Linked DNA regions of Homo sapiens. The protein of the gene in region 2 interacts with the protein of the main gene of each other region in a pairwise test. Each region holds a gene or a part of one and is shown on either strand. Other genes may lie near its edges.

Evidence for each region.
Region 1: the proteins of MPP1 (region 2) and PRIMPOL interact in binary tests that used the Homo sapiens proteins (3 or more experiments, as listed by UniProt).
Region 3: the proteins of MPP1 (region 2) and DNPEP interact in binary tests that used the Homo sapiens proteins (3 or more experiments, as listed by UniProt).

Annotation. Positions count from the first base shown.
Region 1 is NC_000004.12:184,647,637-184,651,382, reverse strand, and holds the start of PRIMPOL (DNA-directed primase/polymerase protein), read right to left. Parts: upstream 1,646-3,746; 5' UTR 1,475-1,645; intron 1-1,474. UniProt on the Homo sapiens protein: DNA primase and DNA polymerase required to tolerate replication-stalling lesions by bypassing them.
Region 2 is NC_000023.11:154,798,873-154,802,618, forward strand, and holds part of MPP1 (55 kDa erythrocyte membrane protein), read right to left. Parts: intron 1,022-3,746; exon of another isoform or gene 885-1,021; coding exon of another isoform or gene 873-884; intron 1-872. UniProt on the Homo sapiens protein: Essential regulator of neutrophil polarity. Regulates neutrophil polarization by regulating AKT1 phosphorylation through a mechanism that is independent of PIK3CG activity.
Region 3 is NC_000002.12:219,381,307-219,385,052, forward strand, and holds part of DNPEP (aspartyl aminopeptidase), read right to left. Parts: intron 3,138-3,746; coding exon 3,060-3,137; intron 1,909-3,059; coding exon 1,825-1,908; intron 834-1,824; coding exon 673-833; intron 279-672; coding exon 239-278; intron 131-238; coding exon 29-130; intron 1-28.

The DNA.
Region 1 (3,746 bases), on a different chromosome or scaffold from region 2:
GCCTAAGTCTTATTTGTGGGATCTGAGTTTAACTCCTGTGACTGTCTTTTTAGCAACAGCAAACTACTTAACCCCTTTTTTTTCTTTTTTTTGAGACAGAGTCTTGCTCTGTTGCCCAGGCTAGAGTGCAGTGGCGCAATCTCAGCTCACTGCAACCTCTGCCTCCCGGGTTCAAGCGATTCTCCTGCCTCAGCCTCTCAAGTAGCTGGGATTACAGGTGCCCACCACTGCACCCGGCTAATTTTTTTTGTATTTTTAGTAAAGACAGGGTTTCACCATCTTGACCAGGCTGGTCTCGAACTCCTGACCTCGTGATCCACCTGCCTCGGCCTCCCAAAGTCCTGGGATTACAGGCATGAGCCACCGCGCCGGGACTTAACCTCTTTAAACTCGGCCTTAACCTCTTTAAACCTTATCCTCTTTAAATTGGAATTCCTATCCCGAGGGATTGTTGAAAGGCTGAAACAAACAAATGTATTATGAAAATGTAAAAGCATGCAATAAACTCAGCAAGGGGTAACCATATATAAAACTAAGTATATTTCTGTGCAGAATATAGTCCCTATAGTCGAATAGGCGCAAGTGTTAGAAACAGGCTCTGCCATGGGGTCCCTGAATCTGACTTCTGAATGTCAAGAACTTTTTGAAATCTGATGCAGAATGTCGTGCTCACATGTGTTGGTGAATTCTTCTGCGAAAATGATTCACAGTTTGCTTCAGGGTCTGAAATGAGTTCACGACCCAAAATAGGAAGGGGATCGGTAGGGCAGTGTATATAGCACACCATTGACGTAACCATTAATAACTCCATCTTAGGAGAAGACCCCATTTTTACATTTCATAAGGCATTTGCCAACAAGCATACTATACTTTAATAAACAAATAAAAAAATAGTCCGCATCCAGCCAGGTAAGGACACAAACAAGCACTCTCTTCCATTACCAGTTCTCACCACAGGACTCTGTGACTATAAAAGATGGGGCCTTCGGCAGCTCCCAACAGCCGGCTTAATTGACGCCGTCTTTGCAGAAGGACCTCTCGGCCCAAACCAGGCTTCTTTTCCTCTTCTTCACTCCCTCTGGATTGGTTCGTTAATCTCTTTGCCCCATCTCTTTTTCCTCATGATGTTAAATGCTACTTTGTTGTGGGATGCTTAACTTGTAACATTTATATGTGGATTAAGTACACTACTATGATGCGTGAGCGGCTTGAGCCTGTGTGTCAGGCTCTGACTACCCAGTGACCAGCAAGTGCTGAGAACTGCCTCCTTGGGAACTCCACGCAGCTCGTGGCTTTTGTGATCGAAAGAGCGTCCACAGCAGCCTGACATGGTGGAAAACACAGCATGCGTGGACCTGGTTATTTCTAGCCTGGCACCCTGATGACAGGAGGTTAAGGCTTTTGATTTAGGGAGAGAGACCTGAGGGTAACCCAAAGAAAGGCCTCAGGTCATCGCAGAGGAGACAGAAATTACCGGTGGGCGTCCCGGCCTGCTCCTCTTCTTCCCAGAGCTCAAACTGGGCAGCAGGCCTGGCTTTGTCTCCCTTCTAGGTACCCGTTGGGCCTGGCGCGGTTTCCAAGTCTCCCTCAATTTCCCTCCAGAATCCCGCGCTGGGAGCGGAAGCCCGCGGACTCTCAGGAAGACCTAGATTTCAAATCCGGGGCGGGGGAGCCGGGCCGAGCCTCAGGGCGGGACCAAAGCGGGAGGACTGGCGCGGGACGCGAGGGCGGGACCAGGGCGTGAGGACGCGGGGCGCGGGGGCGGGGCGCGCTGCGGTGGGCGGGCGCCTCCTGGGGCCCAGCCTGGGGCTGGGTTCTCGGGCGGGCGGGAGCTAGGGGACGGGCCGCAGCGGAGGCGGCGCGAGGGGCCGACAGGGGCGGGCGGGAGGCGGGGCTGGCGCTGGAGCACATCTCCCGGCGGCGGGCCGCGGAAGCAGTGCAGACGCGGCTCCTAGCGGATGGGTGCTATTGTGAGGCGGTTGTAGAAGGTATGAGGAGGCTGTGCGGTGACTGCCGCCCTCGCTCCGGGCCGTCAGCCCTGCCCCCGCTCCCTGCGTTCTCCCAGGCCCTGCGCCCGCCCGGGTACCTGCCCGGTCTGGAAGGCGGAGTGTTTGTTTTGCCACCTCGCCCGGGCGGGGGCGAGCAGTGAAGCCCGCGGAGCGAGAGACTTGGCCCGGAGGCGGGAGCCTGGGCCGGGGCCGGGGAAGCCAGGCAGCGGGTTAAGGCTTTTGATTTAGGGAGAGGGACCTGGGGGTAACCTAAGGAAAGGCCTCAGGTCATCGGAGGGGAGACCTGGCCCGGGGGCGGGAGGCTGGGCTGGGACCGGGGAGGCCGGGCAGCGCGAGGCCGGGCCGGGGAGGCCAGGCAGCGGGAGGCCTGGCCAGGGGAACCGAGCCCGGGGCCGGGAGGTCGGGCACGGGGCACCGAGCTCCGAGGGCGGGAGACCTGGCGGCCGGCCGAGTGCCGGAAGGCCGGGTCAGGCGGCGGAAGGCAGCGGCAAGCTGGGAAACGGACGGCGCTACCGCCGGCGGAGGAGTGGCCCCGGGAAGCGGTGCTGCGAGGGCTGGGGCGGCCGGGTGCTGACTGTGAGATACTCGCCCTGGGGGCTGATCCTTCCAATTTTGGACGAGGCTTCCGTCTCTGCTGCCTTCCATGCCTGGGGCCTGGATTATCCCGGGTTGACAATGTGGTTTAGCTCTTCCAGAGAGATAGTTGCAGGGTTTAAACTCCAATTCCTTTTCGGCCCTGCAGAGTTTCGTGAGTGCTCGCAGCTCATACCTGTGGCTGTGTATCCGTGGCCACAGCTGGTTGGCGTCGCCTTGAAATCCCAGGCCGTGAGGAGTTAGCGAGCCCTGCTCACACTCGGCGCTCTGGTTTTCGGTGGGTGTGCCCTGCACCTGCCTCTTCCCCCATTCTCAGTAAGTGGCACCCAAGCAGGAAACCGGAAAACATCGTTCGCAGCCCCCTCTCGCCCACCCACTTCTTTTCCTGCTTAGTCGCCAAGCCTTGTCGACCTTGTAAATGTCTGCCAGATCTGTCCGCGTCTCTCTATCTCTGATTTCAGCCGTCTGACCACAGCAGCCTCTTCCCTGGTCTCTCCACTTCCAGACCCGCCTGCTCCTTTGCAGTCCACTTTTTACAGCACAGGCAGAGGGATCTTTATGAAATGAAAGTCTAGAAAGCTCGTCCTTTGCCCTTAGGTTAAACCCAGCACTTAATATGGCTAACAAACCCCTGCGTGTGTTGGGTCCTGAGTGCCCCCACCCCTCCTTATCTTTAGCACCGGTTCGATTTCTGCACGGCAATGCTGACCTTCATACCTAGTGTCTGCCTGCAACACCTCTGCACTCCCTTTCTCCCGCCATCACATTTGATTAGAAGAGCTGCTACTTAAATTTCTGTTTTCATTAAACAGTTTAAGGTTAAATCTTCCTATGCTGTGTTCTTTCTGCAGCCAGCATTCCCTAAGAGAGATGTGTCATATCCTTTGCAGTTGCTTGTTTACTATCTTCCCTGCTAGATTTGCAAGCAAACTCCAGGAGGGACGGACTTGGTTTATCTTGGTATCCTTAGTGTCTTGCCCCAAATGCGGGGCCTGGCATAACACAGTGAATGCCCATCCATTGTATTTTTACTTTTATGCCCTATCTAGAAAAAGTAGACCTGGTTTAGGATTATTCAGCAAATAATAATTAGAAAAGAAATGGTAGAGGTGACATACGGAGTCACTGAAACGATGTAAACCT
Region 2 (3,746 bases):
TACAGGCATGCACCACCACGCCCGGCTAATTTTGTATTTTTTGTAGAGATGGGGTTTCTCCGCATTGGCCAGGCTGGTCTTGAACTCCCAACCTCAGGTGATCCGCCCGCCTCGGCCTCCCAAAGTGCTGGGATTACAGGTGTGAGCCACCATGCCTAGCTATGTCATATTCTTCTTATCCAGCTTTATTACAGTGATTGCTTTTTACATGTCAGCCTTTAAATTAAAGACTCAGCAAAGCTTACTAGAGGCAGAACCATTCCAGCTGGAAAAGTTCAAGAGTTGCCATCCCAAAGGTTGGTCTTTCAGATGTGCTTATCCAACAAGACGTTCCTCTTTACGATGACTAAGAGTCACTATCACGCTTACCCAGAAGTTGCAAATGATGACTAAGAAAAACGGAAACTTCCAACGTGGTAACTAAAGTACACACTTGCAACAGTAAGTTTTCCAAAAGCAAAGCACAATTTTCTCCACCGTGAACTTGTCCCTGAGCCACCCTGTCTTCATGAGACTCTCAGAAAGGGAGGGTCAGCTCTCTGTGACCTCATCTTACAGAACTCCTTCAACTAGTCCCCATGTCTCCTCATTACTGACACATCATAGGAGAAAAGATATGCAGACATATACTGTCAGTGACATGAGTAATGCTGAACAAATAATAAAGGTCAAAGGTACTAGATTCTATTTCTCAGAGTTCAGTTCACAACCTCCACATCATCCTCTCAAAGCAGCCACCATCATCTGTAGTGGATATAGGAGGCCACAGAGCTATGGCAGGCCTGCCCCTGACCAGTGACAAGGCAGGGCGGAAGTGGCTCTGTTAAGGATGACTGCTGGGATTCAGGAGGAGCCAGGGAATAAACACTCACCCAGGACTCCATGTCTGGCCTTTGTTCTGCAGCCTCTGGCCTTTAATCAGACAAAGTGCTGGAGTGGCAATGCCTGCCGCTCTGAAAGCCCCTTCAGAGGAAACATCTGCAGCAGGGTTCAAAGGGCAGAGGCAGTTGCTCAAAGGAAGCTGGAATTTAAAAAGAGATGAAAAACAAACTTGGCGGGGGGCGGGCGGTGGCGGGGGTGAATAGAGCAGGGGCAACTGAAGTTGGCTTTCTAATCCAAACAATTAGATTAAGTGACAGTGAACATAGGAAAGAACAAATATTTGCTCAGCCTACTGTTAGGCTCTTTGCCAACTGCTCCCACGTGGAGACTTAGAAAGCCAAGTCCAAGAAGGCGAGATGATGCCAGACAGCTGCCCAGCAAGCCCTGGCCCCAGGTGCTCGCAAATTCCCTCTCTTTGCATGGGCAGTATCCTATTCCACTTTGGGAAAAAACAAGAGAAACTGAGAAAGCCAAGGGTATTCTGAAGTATTAGAAAGAGATTAGCACTGTTTAACCACAAATGACAGGAACTAGGGAGAGAGGAAGGCCTAAGAGCCAGGATATTCTGGCAGGTACTGTCTTAAAATCATACATTAACCAGGTGCTTTGCTTCTCAGGTACTAAATCCATCTGGGAACACATACATCAACCTAAAGGCCAAGTCTCTAGAGATCCCTTCCCAACGAGCTTTTTCTACCCCATGCTCTCAGTACACATGCAAAGGCTTTTGCTTCCACTGGGGAAAAAAAACAACAGGAAACTCAAGTAGCACCGTTCCACACAGCAGAAACACAGGGCTGCAGATACCTGGCACTGAGTCCCCACACTGCCATTAAACCAGTGCCGGAGCTGTGTGCAAATAACAACACTCGTTAAATCAAATGCTCATCCCCATTCTGTGGTCAATATTTGAAGACATGAAATGGTTCAGAAACCTGTCTGAGCTTAAAGGATGAGTAAGCCTCAGACTCCAGAAGTTAAACTATAAGCATGGACTTTGGAGTTTGTGCAGGTACATGGAGAGAATGCAGGTGCTGTGTCCCTCACATAAAGGCTGCCTCTGCACTGTGCAGAATATTCAGAGATGATGGCAGGTGCTAAGGAGGAAAATAAAGCAGAAAAGGCCTCGCAAGGAAGATAACTTTTGAGGGAAAACCTATTATGTGTTTTGTTCATGTATATTTCTTCATATGAAAGAAAAAAAGAAAAGCAAGACTATGTTACGAAAGTTCCTCTTCCCCTCCTCTGGCGTCACTTCCCCTACCCCAGCCAATTTTGGAAATATGGCTATTTAGTCTTGCCTTTCTACACTCCACACCCAGAGTTCTTTTTTAGCAACACTGAAAGGTTAGAGACAACTCACTGCTTAGGAGAAAAATCTCTGCATCAACTAATTTTGTCTCCCCTCTTGACACTGTCTCAGGACATTATTGATTGTCACAACTTAGCGGCGAGGTATTACTTTTTACAACAGAATTATCAGACCCAAAGTGTTAACAGTGCCCAGGTTGGCAAACTCCAATTTAAGGGAATTGATCTTAACCTGAAATATCTGTTCCTGGTATTCTATTATACTTCAGTGTCTTGTGTAGGGAGAACAAATGAGTTAGAAAAGAATAGAACGTTCATGATGAAACTCAAATCTGCTTAGCCACAATAAAAGCAGATTCTTATCTGCAAGGTATCCTAAGCCCTTCCAGTTTTGAAAAAAAAGTCATGAAAGGCCCAGGGCGCTGGATCATACCTGTAATCCCAGCACTTTGGGAGGCCGAGGCAGGCGGATCACCTGAGATCAGGAGTTCGAGACCAGCCCGGCCAACATGGCGAAAACCTGTCTCTATCAAAAATACAAAAATTAGCCAGGCGTGTTGGCAGGCGCCTGTAATCCCAGCTAGCTGGGAGACTGAGGCAGGAGAATCGCTTGAACCTAGGAGGCAGAGGTTGCAGTGAGCCAAGACCACACCCCTACACTCCAGCCTGGGTGACAGAGCAAAACTCTGTCTCAAAAAAAAAAAAAAAAAAAAAAAAAAAACAAAAAACAGAAAAAAGTCATGAAGTTCCTGGAAGTGAAGGACAGGAAAGGCAGACTGGCTGAGACCACACCACATACTGGGGAAATTGGGCAGAGGACTAAATAATTTGAAAATTACACTTTACTTTCTAGTATCAGTTCTGTGAAAAGAAAAGCCTTGAACGGAACCATTTCCTTTGCAAAGGAAACAGCAAGATCCAAGTCTGCAGCGAAAGTTCTTTCTCAGGTGAAATTATAACTAGTCAGAAGCAGAGTCAGTGATCATGCACACCGTAGACTCAACCTCCTGCCATCGCAGAAGGTGCCGCACTCGGCATGCACCTTGGTGTCCGTGCACAGGCTGTTCCCTCTGCCCAGGTACCACCTGCCAGTTACAGCCTAGGTACTGCGAAATGCAAGAGCCCACTGTGCTGGGTGCCCCTCCTTGCTCCACAGCGCTCCACAGCTGCTTCTATCACATCACCACCACACTACTGTATTTGTTTCCATGTCTGCGTCCTTCCTTATTTGCCTCTTAGTTCCAGCAGCAGACCTGGAGTAGGCAACAAACAACACTGCGTCACACTCAGTGACCACCAGCGGGGAGTAATGCTGCATGTGATGGCCTAAGAACCAAGAAACAGGTTTTCTTGGTGGAAATTTGCCTGGAGCCTGACTTATCTGTTAGGTGATTTTTTTTTGATGTGGGATAGGCCCAAGAGAATTTTCAGGGATTCTCAACCAATTGCTTCAGGTCCTGGGGAAAGTGTTGCTTCAAACAGGCCCGAAGAGAAAAGCAGTATTGGGAATTTTACAACTACTTTTATGTGCATTAATGGATACTGCTGTGAAG
Region 3 (3,746 bases), on a different chromosome or scaffold from region 2:
CACCTTCCCAGGCAGGGCCCACCCTCACCTGCAGGGGGACCTTGACTTTGTTGGCCACCTCTCGGATCAGGGCCTCTGACACCGCGTTTGAAGCATAGCGTTGCTTGCTGTTCACCTTGATCACGGGGCCCTGGGGAGAGTCAAGGTGAGGCAGAGGTAATGACAGGCCCAAAGGGAATGAGTCGGCGCTCGGAACAGCCAGACCTCCAAGTCCCTAGGGAGAAATGGCACGTCTCACCTTGTGGAATAAAGGCCGGTGGTTCTCCTCATGCTTGTCCCTGTAAGAGACAGATAAGGGCCAGACATAGCAAACAGGAGCAGGCCTGTCGACACTCACCACCCTCCCATGGCAGACATCACTAATAGATCACCACTCTTTCCCGCCCAGCCCAGTGGGACTTCAGAGTCATTCCACACACAGGGTTCCGGGCAGCCTCTAGCAATAGATGGAAACAAGTTTGTAGACAAAGGTGTATTCCACACACCTGGGTTAGGCATTGCATGACTTTGACCAAGTTGGTCTCGCAGTAGTGAAAAGGAAGTGCCCGTGAACCTCCCGGCAGAATGAAGAAGGGAGAAAGGAAGAGGCTGGGGCCAAGGCAGAGCCTCAAGGCAGGTTATGCTTGGGTCTCCAGCTATGTGAAGACTGTGTGACTGGCACTAGAGACTCACAGGTAGTTGGGATGCACAGCATGGGCCATGTCTGCGCTGATCATGAAGGACTTGGGTATGGCTTCCTCGAAGGCTGTCGGGTGCTGGCACGAGGCTGAGATCCGCCGCAGCACCAGCTCTGTCAGCAGTGACTGTGCTCCCTGTGCACTCTCAGACCCCACCTGGCGACAGTAGAGTCCTGACTCTGGGAATCTGGGCTTAGGGGCCTGATCTTGGAAGCCAGTGAGAGGGGCCCATTGCCCAACTGGCCCAAAACCCCACTGAGTCACTGGGTGTTCTTAGCAACACCCCTAACCTGGGGTCGTCACTGAACACCAGACAGTGGGCTGAGACCAAACTAACTCACATTCTTAACAGTACTGGTGGGTTTCCTGCACTGCTCCCCTTCCTCCTCTCGTGACCCTCACATCTGGGGCTCAGCACAGGTGCCCCACCACACTGGTCAATTTTCTTTTATGTGTATGACAGAGACTGCTAACTGTCCATGATATCTTTTAGAACACCCAAGTTGTAGCTAAGCACTTAACTACCCAGCTAGAGATGACATTTCCAGGCTCCCCTGCAGCTAAGTTCTGTGGAATGTAAGCAGTGATGAATGTCACTTCTGGATCATGCCCTTAAAGCCAGGGGGTGTCTACTGCCCCTTTGCCCTCTCTTCCCTTCCTACTAACTCAGTGTAGACATGATGGCCAGAGCTGGAACGGCCACCCTGAATCCTGAAATGGAAGTCATGTGTTCAGGACGGCAGGGACCCCTCCTAAACTGCTAACTCTGACCTGGGTTGTTACATGAGAGAGCACTAGCTGTTCAAGCTCTGTTATGCAGCTGAGACTGCAGCCTCACACACGCAGGCATCATGAGGACCTACTCTGTGCTGAGCCCTGGGGCTACGAGGATGGGCTGGGTAGAGTCCCTGTCCTAAAGGAAGAAGCTCACCATGTGGCACAAAGAGAGATACAGGAGAGACGGTCACCCTCGAATAAGCAGATCTATGTTGAGTCAGAGGAGACACCAAGTGCTAAGGAGGCACAGGCAGCATCTCCCCTGTCTTGGGGCCCCCAGAAGAGCCCTGGCTCACGGTGGATGCCTGGCACAACAAGTTGGCTGTGGAAGACTCCGCAGAGGTGACCCTCCCCAGAACCCTCCACGTACCTCTTCGTTGTCATAGAGTGTGACCATGCGCACGTGAGGCTCTGTGGCCAGGGAGCCAGGGCCTGCACAGGAATCTATCAAGGCCTGGTTCAGGGAAGGAAATGAGAGCATCATCTCCAACCTGCTTCTGCTGGAACTCAGCCCACCAGCACCTTGGGTGTGCACGCTCCCCCATCCACCAGCACCTTGGGTGTGCACATTCCCCTGTCTGCCTTCCATGGCCATGACTTTTATCAATTAGGGCACTGCCTGGCAGAGGGTGTGGTGGGGACCTTTTTTTTCTTGCCAAATAAATAGCTACATAGGTAGAAACCTTTAAGGTGTGGTGAGGACCTTTTTTTTCTCTTTTTTTCTTTCTTTCTTTTTTTTTTTGGCCAGATCAATAGCTAGGTAGAAACCTTTTCAACTGGGACAGGAGACACCATCCTTTGGGTGTTGTTCTCTACCTTCCCATGCAAAAGGCAGTAGAAGATGTGGAGGACAGAGAGGAAGAGCTGAGAGTCCTGGAAAGCCAAAAGGCTACACACATCACATAAACTGATTGGCCTCAGGGAAAAGACTGAGGTTCAAAGAGGTGACAGACTCCATCAAGGTGACATGACTGGCTGGTTGCCTGCAGAAGTAGATGCAGGTCCCAGGTCCAGCTCTGGTCTCAATTACAGCCCAAAGCCTATCTCCAGCCACAGGATTACAGGGAAGGAAAGGCAGAAAAAGGCAGAGGGAGATCAAGGGCAAGAGGAGAGAAAGAAAGGGAACTGACTAGGGTGGAGAGAAGGTGGGGAATATCAAGGTGACTAGGAAGAGAGGCTACCTGACTGAGATCCCAAGAAACAGGGAGAAGGCTGGGGTCTTAAGCCTGGGGAGTGGCGTAGGAAGCAGAAGGAGGTGGATGATACTGCCTTGTGGATGATAAAGCCTTTCCCTGAGGCAGAGGTTGTTAACTTCAGGAAAAGCAGCAGGAGCAAGGCTAGGACAAGAGACCATGGTGCCTGAAACAACTTCTCCTCCTTCTTCTTGCCTCAACACCCTGATAGTGCAAGGGCAGAGACCAAAGGTGGCGATGCTGAGGCTGCAACATTTAGGGCCCCCTCCTGGTCCATCCAGCACCAGCAGACTGAGCGGGTAGACAATGGCCCTCTCTCACAACCTGCTGGGGCTTTAGGCAGCTCCCCCGACCCCAAACATACCACCTCTGCTGGTGGTTATGTGCTGCCTGGGGCGCCCCGGCTCCTCACCTGCAGGGCACAGAAGCAGCTGTGCAGATTGTCCAGCCGAGGAGCAAAGATGAACTCATCATAGGCACCACCCAAGACCTAGAGAGGTAAGACAGTCAGCCCGACCTTCAACCCTCCACCCCCACTCACCTTTCTTTTGCTCCCAAGGGTCTCCTTGGTTTCTTGCGCAACCTCTCCCTGACCCCTGGCTTAGGGCACTATTTTGTTTTTTCTTTTTTTTGAGATGAAGGTTCGCTCTTGTCGCCCAGTCTGAAGTGCAATGGCTCGATCTCGGCTCACTGCAACTTCCGCCTCCCGGGTTCAAAGGATTCTCGTGCCTCAGCCTCCTGAGTAGCTGGGATTACAGGCATGCACCACCAGGCCCAGCTAATTTTTGTATTTTTATTAGAGACAGGGTTTCACCATGGTGGTCAGGCTAGTCTCGAACTCCTGACCTCATGTGATTCCCCCCGCCTCAGCCTCCCAAAGTGCTGGGATTCCTTGCTAGGCAGGACCAAGCAGAGATTGGAGAAGGGGGCTGGGTTGGTGCTGAGGAACAAAAGGGTGGAGGCCAATAGCTCTTGACCTCTTCCTGTGGGTCAAGAAAAGGAAGGGCTGAATTGTCATCAAAAAGGCCAAAGAAGTAAACAGAGGAAACCAGCCAAAAAACAGAAACTTAGTACGTGTTCAAGCAGGACACAGCATCCA